Linked DNA regions of Homo sapiens. The protein of the gene in region 2 interacts with the protein of the main gene of each other region in a pairwise test. Each region holds a gene or a part of one and is shown on either strand. Other genes may lie near its edges.

The links. Proteins that work in one complex are often made in the same cells at the same time.
Region 1: the proteins of CBY2 (region 2) and HSF2BP interact in binary tests that used the Homo sapiens proteins (3 or more experiments, as listed by UniProt).

Annotation. Positions count from the first base shown.
Region 1 is NC_000021.9:43,610,798-43,614,545, reverse strand, and holds part of HSF2BP (heat shock factor 2-binding protein), read left to right. Parts: intron 1-598; coding exon 599-716; intron 717-3,748. UniProt on the Homo sapiens protein: Meiotic recombination factor component of recombination bridges involved in meiotic double-strand break repair.
Region 2 is NC_000013.11:45,700,569-45,704,316, forward strand, and holds the start of CBY2 (protein chibby homolog 2), read left to right. Parts: upstream 1-1,751; 5' UTR 1,752-1,822; coding exon 1,823-1,897; exon of another isoform or gene 1,898-1,947; intron 1,948-2,206; coding exon 2,207-2,287; intron 2,288-2,942; coding exon of another isoform or gene 2,943-3,023; intron 3,024-3,748.

The DNA of each region.
Region 1 (3,748 bases), on a different chromosome or scaffold from region 2:
CTGTTTAATGCAGCACTCTGGAGCATAGTGACCGCAGACTTGGTTAGATTCCAGGGCTCTGTTTCACTCTTTCGGCGCTTGCTAATCACACTGCACATTACTTGATATTTCAGTAACTCTTGTGGTTGTCAGTGATTCTTTCTGAGCTGTCATTTTTGTTGATAATTTTTTTTTTTTTTTTTTGAGACAGGGCTTTGCTCTGTCACCCAGGCTGGAGTGCAGTGTCATGATCATGGCTCACTGCAGCCTCTACCTCCTAGGCTCAAGCAATCCTTCTGCCTCTACCTCCTGAATAGCTAGGACTACAGGTGCACACACCGTGCCCGGCTAATTTTTAAATTTTTTGTAGAGATAGGGTCTTGCTGTGTTGCCCAGGCTGGTCTTGAACTTGTGGCCTCAAGCAGTCCTCCCACCTCAGTCTCTCAAAATGTTGGGATTACAGGTGTGAACAACCATGCCTAGCAATTTCATTTATAAATGCCTCATTTTCAGCTGTGTTTTCATTAGGTCTTTTAGGAGAAAATACTCTGTTCTGCACAAAATTGTCTAGGTTCTGAGTCATAATGATCTTGATGTTTTGTTTCATTTTCTGTTGCAGATGTTGCTGCTATAGCATGTGGTCGTGAATTCTTGGTTAATTCAAGCCGGGTGCTCTTGGACACCATATTGCAGCTTCTGGGAGACTTGAAGCCAGGACAGTGTACCAAACTCAAAGTGTATGGTGGATAATGTTAAAAAGTTAATTCTATTTACATATTAATTAGACTGTGCTGATTGGGCCTCTCTTCAAGTAAACACAGTTAATTTTGGTGGTAGTTTTAAAAACTAGAAGAAATAAATTCCTGGAGAAGTTAAGGGCGTGCACTGTCTCTTAAATAGCATTTTAGAAAATAAATTTAAGGAAGGAATGTTCTCACCTTAGAGCAATCAGTGAGTCCCAGTATTATCACATGGTACTTCATGGGTATGTCAAAATGAATTTAAATAGGTATCTGTCTTCCAGCTACTAAAATCTGTATTTGTTTTCTATTTTTATGTAACAAATTATCACCAACTTGGTGGCTAAAACAACACCATTTATTATTTCATAGTTTGGCAAGTCAGAAGTCTGAGTGGGTTTGAGAGGTTCTCTGCATAGGTCAAAAGTGAGGTGTTTTCCAGGGTGGGATCTTTTCAGAGAATCTAGGGGAGGAATCTGCTTCTGGGCACTTTGAAGTGGCTGGTAGAGTCCAGTGTCTTGGTTTCTAGGAGCGAGTTCCCTGTTTCCCAGCTGGCTGGTCAGCTGTGGGTCAGCTGCTGAGGCAGCTTGCATTGCTTCTCACAGGGACCCCATCTTCAAGCCACAGTCGCTCATTGAATCCTTCCCACGTTTCCAGTCTCTGAGACTTCCTCTTCTGCTACCAGCAAGATGAAACTCTCTCTGCTTTTATTCTTTTGTTAAAAAGTTTACTTCAAGAAGGCAAAAACTCTGCTTCTTATAGATTTGTGTGTTTAGATGAGGCATACCTGGATAAACTCCTTTTGATTAACTCTTGAGTCAGCTGGTTAGTAACCTTAATTACATCTACAGAATCCTCTTTTCCAGGCAATGACATAATCAGCGTGTGATAATTTATAGTCCCAGAGATTAGGGCAGGAAATCTTGGGGAGAGGGGCAGTGTAGGATTCTGCCACTCACACTGTTCGTTCTGAGTGTTGCCTTTGACTTCTTAGAGCATCTTTATTTTTTAATTATTTTTTTAAAGAGACCGAGTCTCTACAGACCTTGCCTAGGCTGGCCTCAAACTCCTAGGCGTTCAAATAATCCTTCCACCTCAGCCTCCTGAGTAGCTGGGACTACAGGCATGTGCCACCATCCCCTGCTGTGGAGCACTTTTTTTTTTTTTTTTTTTTTTGAGACGGAGTCTTGCTCTGTCACCCGGGCTGGAGTGCAGTGGCGTGATCTCGGCTCACTGCAAGCTCCGCCTCCCGGGTTCACACCATTCTCCTGCCTCAGCCTTCCAAGTAGCTGGGACTACAGGCGCCCGCCACCACGCCCAGCTAATTTTTTGTATTTTTAGTAGAGACGGGGTTTCACCGTGTTAGCCAGGATGGTCTCAATCTCCTGACCTCGTGATCCACCCGCCTTGGCCTCCCAAAGTGCTGGGATTACAGGCGTGAGCCCCTGCGCCCGGCCTAGCACTTTTAAAAAGTAAGAGCTTCTGTAAAGTCTGTGCCAGGTGCTTCCAACACCTGTGTCATCCTGGCCTCGGTGTCTCTTGATTGTTTTTTCCCATGAGAGTTGAGATTTTCCTGTTTCTTCATATGCCAAGTAATTTTGGATTTATCCTGGACATTTACGTGATCACTGGTCTTGTTTAAATCCTTGGGAAATGCTGGTGTTTATATTTTCACAGGCAGTCAACCCCTTTGGGTCAGATTCCAGCCAGCCTTTTCTCTGTTTGGTTTCAGTGTGTCGTCCTGTTTTCAGAGTCTTTACAGTGCTATTGGAACTGCCCCTCGTGAGTGCCGCCCAGTGGCCAGTCTGAGACCTGGGTGGTCTGGATCTTAGGTTCAGAGTCTTTCAGATACTGTTTATGATCAGATCCACACAGGCACAACTTGGGATGAGGCCAGGAATTTATAAACAACTTTTTGGGGTCACTTTTCTGAGCTGTTAACTCTCTGGGTACACTTTAGTTACCTGGGACTGCCTTTTTCAGTCCCCCACCTGGAATGCTGGGGCTTCATATACCCTGCTGTGTCCAAGTGCCTGCAACTCTGCCCTCATCCCGCCCTGCGGCAGGAGTTGAGAAGCTCTTAGAGCTTTCAGGTGTAAGGAAAAAATTCCTTTCCCCCAGAGTTTGAGTTACCTGGGGGATGTCCCCACTGCTACCGTGCTTGGTTGCTGGCAGGAGACCCCTTTCCCACTCCTTGAGCCTCACTAGAGACCTTCTCCTGGTGCTCTCTGTGTGGCTCAGGGCTACTTTTGGGTTTTGGAGCTCCCTCGAGTCCAGGCCAGGGACACTAAAGGAAAAAGTGGTAAACTCTCTGCTGGTTTAGTGGTTCTTAAAATTTTGATCTTCTTCCCCTATCTGCCTGCTACTGTTTACTTTTCAGAGTCCTCAAATAGCTGCTTCATGTATTCTCTTTGGAATTTATAGCTGCATTCAGTGGAAGCGAGACTGGAGGGTGTGTTCAGGCCATCTTATCCAGAACCAAGCTTTCTAGTCCATTTTAATATTTTGTGCTAACAAATATCTATACATACATAATACATATAATACAGTGTAACATATATGCAAAAAAAATTTTTTTTTTGAGACAGAGTCTTGCTTTGTAACCCAGGCTGGAGCACAGTGGTATGAACATGGCTCACTGCAGCCTCGACCTCTTAGGCTTAAGTTATCCTCCCAGCTCAGCCTTCTGAGCAGCTGGGACCGTCAGTGCATGCCACCATGCCTGGCTAATTGTTAAATTTTAAAAATTTTTTTGTAGAGACGGGGTCTCTCCATGTTGCCCAGGCTGGCATAGATGGTTTTGTTTGGGGGTATAATTTTACAAATTGCTTGTGGATCTAGTTCATTCCTTTTAAGTACCTTGCATCAAAGGAGATGTAATATTTGGATTATCCTTCCCTGACTGATGGGCATTTAAGTTACTTTCGGGTTTTACTTGACAAATATAATGCCGTAGTGAGCATCCTTGATAAACTCTTTGCTAACCTGTCTGAGAGTTCTCCAGGAGTTTTCCCAGAGGAAATATTTGA
Region 2 (3,748 bases):
AGAAGAAAGAGGGATTGACTGAAAATGTTTTACATGTGCCATTTTTCTTCAGGTTTTCTAGTTTATGGAGTTGCTTTGTTCTAATTGAGTGTGCAGGAGTCTGGAGATCTCATAAGGCTTCTGCTGTAGCCATCACAGTCTTTGACCTCTGTTAAGCCAAATATTGCTACACAGACCAAAAATACAGACAGACCAACAAAAATCAGAACCAGACTAGATTATCTTAGTGGCTGTAGCTTTTTAGTATTGCCTTAATTCTTTGGGACTTAAACATACACCAGATTTGGGACTCTGAACTGACCAGAATCCCCCTTGGGTAGGACTCAAATCCACAATCCTAGACAAGGTTGGGACTCTCATCCATAATCCTAAACCACAGGGTGGGACTTGAACCCACAGTCGTTATGATGAGTTCAAAGACAATTAAAAGTACAGGGGCATATTAACAAGGTACTCACCAGAAAGATGTCTAATCCAGAAGCAATTTATTTTCCCAAAAGAGAAGTGCCAAGGGAGCCTGAAGTGCCATGGTGGAGAAGAAGGAACCCTATAGTCGAGCCTCTGGACACCCTGGTCTAGGTGGCCACTCAGGATCAGTGCAGGGGGCCTGCACACCACTAGGGGCAACAGTACCTTGGACAGGCTGTTCGTCTCACCTGGGGTTCTAGTTTGTTAACAAGCAAAAGGGGCTCACTGCCCAATGTGCTAGAAGCCAACACTGACACCAAATTTTTGAAAAAAAGAAAAGCTTTATATTAAAAGTCACCTCTGAAGGAGACAGGAGTCAAGCTCAAATTTGTCTCTTTCTGCTGGCATTAAGGCAGTACTTTTATTAGAAAAGGTTCAGGGGGTGGATTCTGAGATTAGTAGGTGATTTGTGCAAGGAAAAGGGAGGTCTGGAAAGTCCTTGGGCATGCATAGTTATTTCTTCATGTTAACTCCTGAGTTGCATGGCAAATTCAGGGAGAGTTAGTATGAAACGTGGTGGAAATTCAGGCTATGACATCAGCAAGCTTATTCTGTGCAAGCTCCAGTTAGCCATCTTGGTTCCAACCAGTTTCAGCCAGGTTTTTCTTGATCTCACAAGTGGAGGGAGTTTCAGCGGCTTAAGTTTCTTTTCTTATCTGCTATCTTGAAACTCAAAAATTAAGTAACTGGTTTCTTACTCTTTGGGACTTTCCAGACCTCCCATTTCCATCCACCAATCACCTACTAATCTCAGAATCCACCCCCTGAATCTTTTCTAATAAAAATACTACCTTAATGTCAGCACAGAGAGACAGATTTGAGCTTGACTCTTGTCTCCTTGGGAGTTGACTTTCAATATACAAGTTTTTCTTTTTTAAAGAACTTAGTGTTTTAGTATTGGCTTCTATTGCATTGGGTAGTGAGCCGCTTCAGCTCTGTAACACTAACTCTGGTAGATAGCATCAGGATGAAATTGAATTGTAGGGCACACAGTTGGTGTCAGAGAATTAAGGAATTGAGTAGTGTCAGAAAACACCTCAGACTACACTTTCTCCCTTGGTATGGGAAGAGTTCAGTTTGTGTTTCTTTCTTCTTGAGTGACCCAACTCCAAGAAGATGCCACTTCTGGAGAGAGAATAGGGATCTCAACTTAGCCTGGCAGTGAGAATACGAATGGCAGCTGGAATGACCCAACAGGGGGCTAATGTTTGGGCTATTGTGTGTGTCACACTGACCCTGACCAGCCAAGTAGTCACAGCACCCACAAGCTCTTCCTGCCTGTCAGATGCCTCATTCCCACCTGTGATGCTCAGAGAGAAACCATGAGCCCTGAAAAACACCATATTGTTTTGTGATGTCACCTCTGGAATGTTCTGAGTGTTTTGGTGACCAACTTCTGCATAGGACCTATACCTGGCAACTCACATTGGTATGGCTTTTTACTTGAGATAGAAATAATCATCTTAGACAGGGAAGCAGGTACAGCTATCTCCACTTCAAAAACTTTCAAAAGCCTTTTACATCAACTATAATATCTAGCTTAATATCTGTTCAGAGATTGATAAACCATCATGCCAGATATCATCTACACGTTCTTTCAGACTCAGACTTTCATAATTGTACATAATTGACAAGAGAGAAATAAATGAGTAGAAAGTTCTGTGTTTTTTAGGCGAGCAATTGAGGCCCAGAGGATGAGCTGGGAAGCAGTAATCTTCTTCTTTTCTCGTTTCCACAGCACTCAAGGCCAAATTATACAAGAAAAAGAGATACCAGATCTGAAAGCCTAGAAATTCCAATCAGTGTGGTTCTACCTCAGGTAGGGATAATCACAGAAGGATGTAACCTATCAGTGTTAGCCAGAATAACCCCCCATCTCCTCCTTCAAAACTCTAGCAAGATGTTGTAGAATAAGCAGAGATAGTCAGGGCTTCAGATTATAGTTTGGGTTGGGTGCCAGCAGGCGGTGTGCTGGGGAAGGCCACATAGCCCCTCTGGGCCTTGGGTTCTTTTTCCCATGAATGAGGTGGCTGGGTCAGATGATCTGGTAAGAACTTCCAGTCCTAACATTCCAAGTTTCTATGATACACTGAAGTAACCCAGCCTTCTCAAAACGAGATCTTTTGGTGCTTAGTGTTGTGCAATCACTCTGGATTTCTGGGGGAGAATTAGAACTGGGACTTGAAATCAAATGCATAAGAATGAATCCATGAGAAGAAAACCTCATCCGTGGACAAAGGGGTACAGAGTTATTTGGAGCTGTCAAGAGAATTAAGCCCTGCTATGCATCAAAGACAGATGTAGGGGCCATGGGCATAGATGCTTTTTCAGTCAATGAATTGGTGAAGTCCTCACAGGCTATAGAGTCTCAGGTCTCCTCCTGCCTGCAATCAGCTGTTTCCTTAGTGGAGTCCTCTTGATTGAATTGTTTCTACTGCTGCTATGTCACAAAGGGGTGGCTTTGCTTTCTCCAGAGTCACCTAAGTCCTCATTGGAAGACCAGGGCCATGCAACCAGAGGGGTTGAAATGTAGGATGGAGGAATCCAATGCAGAGGTAACTATCTGAGAGCTCTGTCCAGGGATGTGTAGGAGGAGGATTGACCACTGGTGGGCATTCCATATATATAATTGTAACAATCTAGGCAAGTATGTTCAGCGGGAGGCAAAAATATGGAAGAAGAAAACATCCTGGATGTTTATTTTCACATTATCTTTATAACTTTGTAATGAACAGTCACTTTTCTGTTACTTTTAGCCCATGAATCTTAGCCAGAATATAAGATAACTTCCCCCTGATCATTCAACAAGATAACAAGCTGTAGGAATCTTTTTGGGCCTGATTCTTTCCACCTGAAATACGCAGGGAGTTGTGTTAGCCACTACTCCCCCAAGAGTGGGTGTTACTGCTGTGATTCCTCATAGCCCATATAAACCAATCTTTTCTTCCAGAATCCTGGGGCCCCTCAACTTTACATGCTTTGAAAGTACCTCAGATGGCTGAATGTTCTCTGATAGTAACCCTCGGTAATGTTAGCAAAGTTGGTGTTTAAGAAACTTGGTCAGGCAGAGGATGCCAACCTAGGGGTGGGTGTGAAGGAGGGGGTAGGATTTGAAAGAGTAGTGGTCATGTGATAGAGAAATTGGAATGATGTTTCCATCAACACCCACCGCAACTTTCCCTCCCCAGCTCCCAGAAACAGCCCAACGATCAAGGAGAAGAGAAGGTGGTTTAAGACAGCTCAAGCTTGTCTTGGGGCTGCCTGCTTCCTGTGCTGGAGG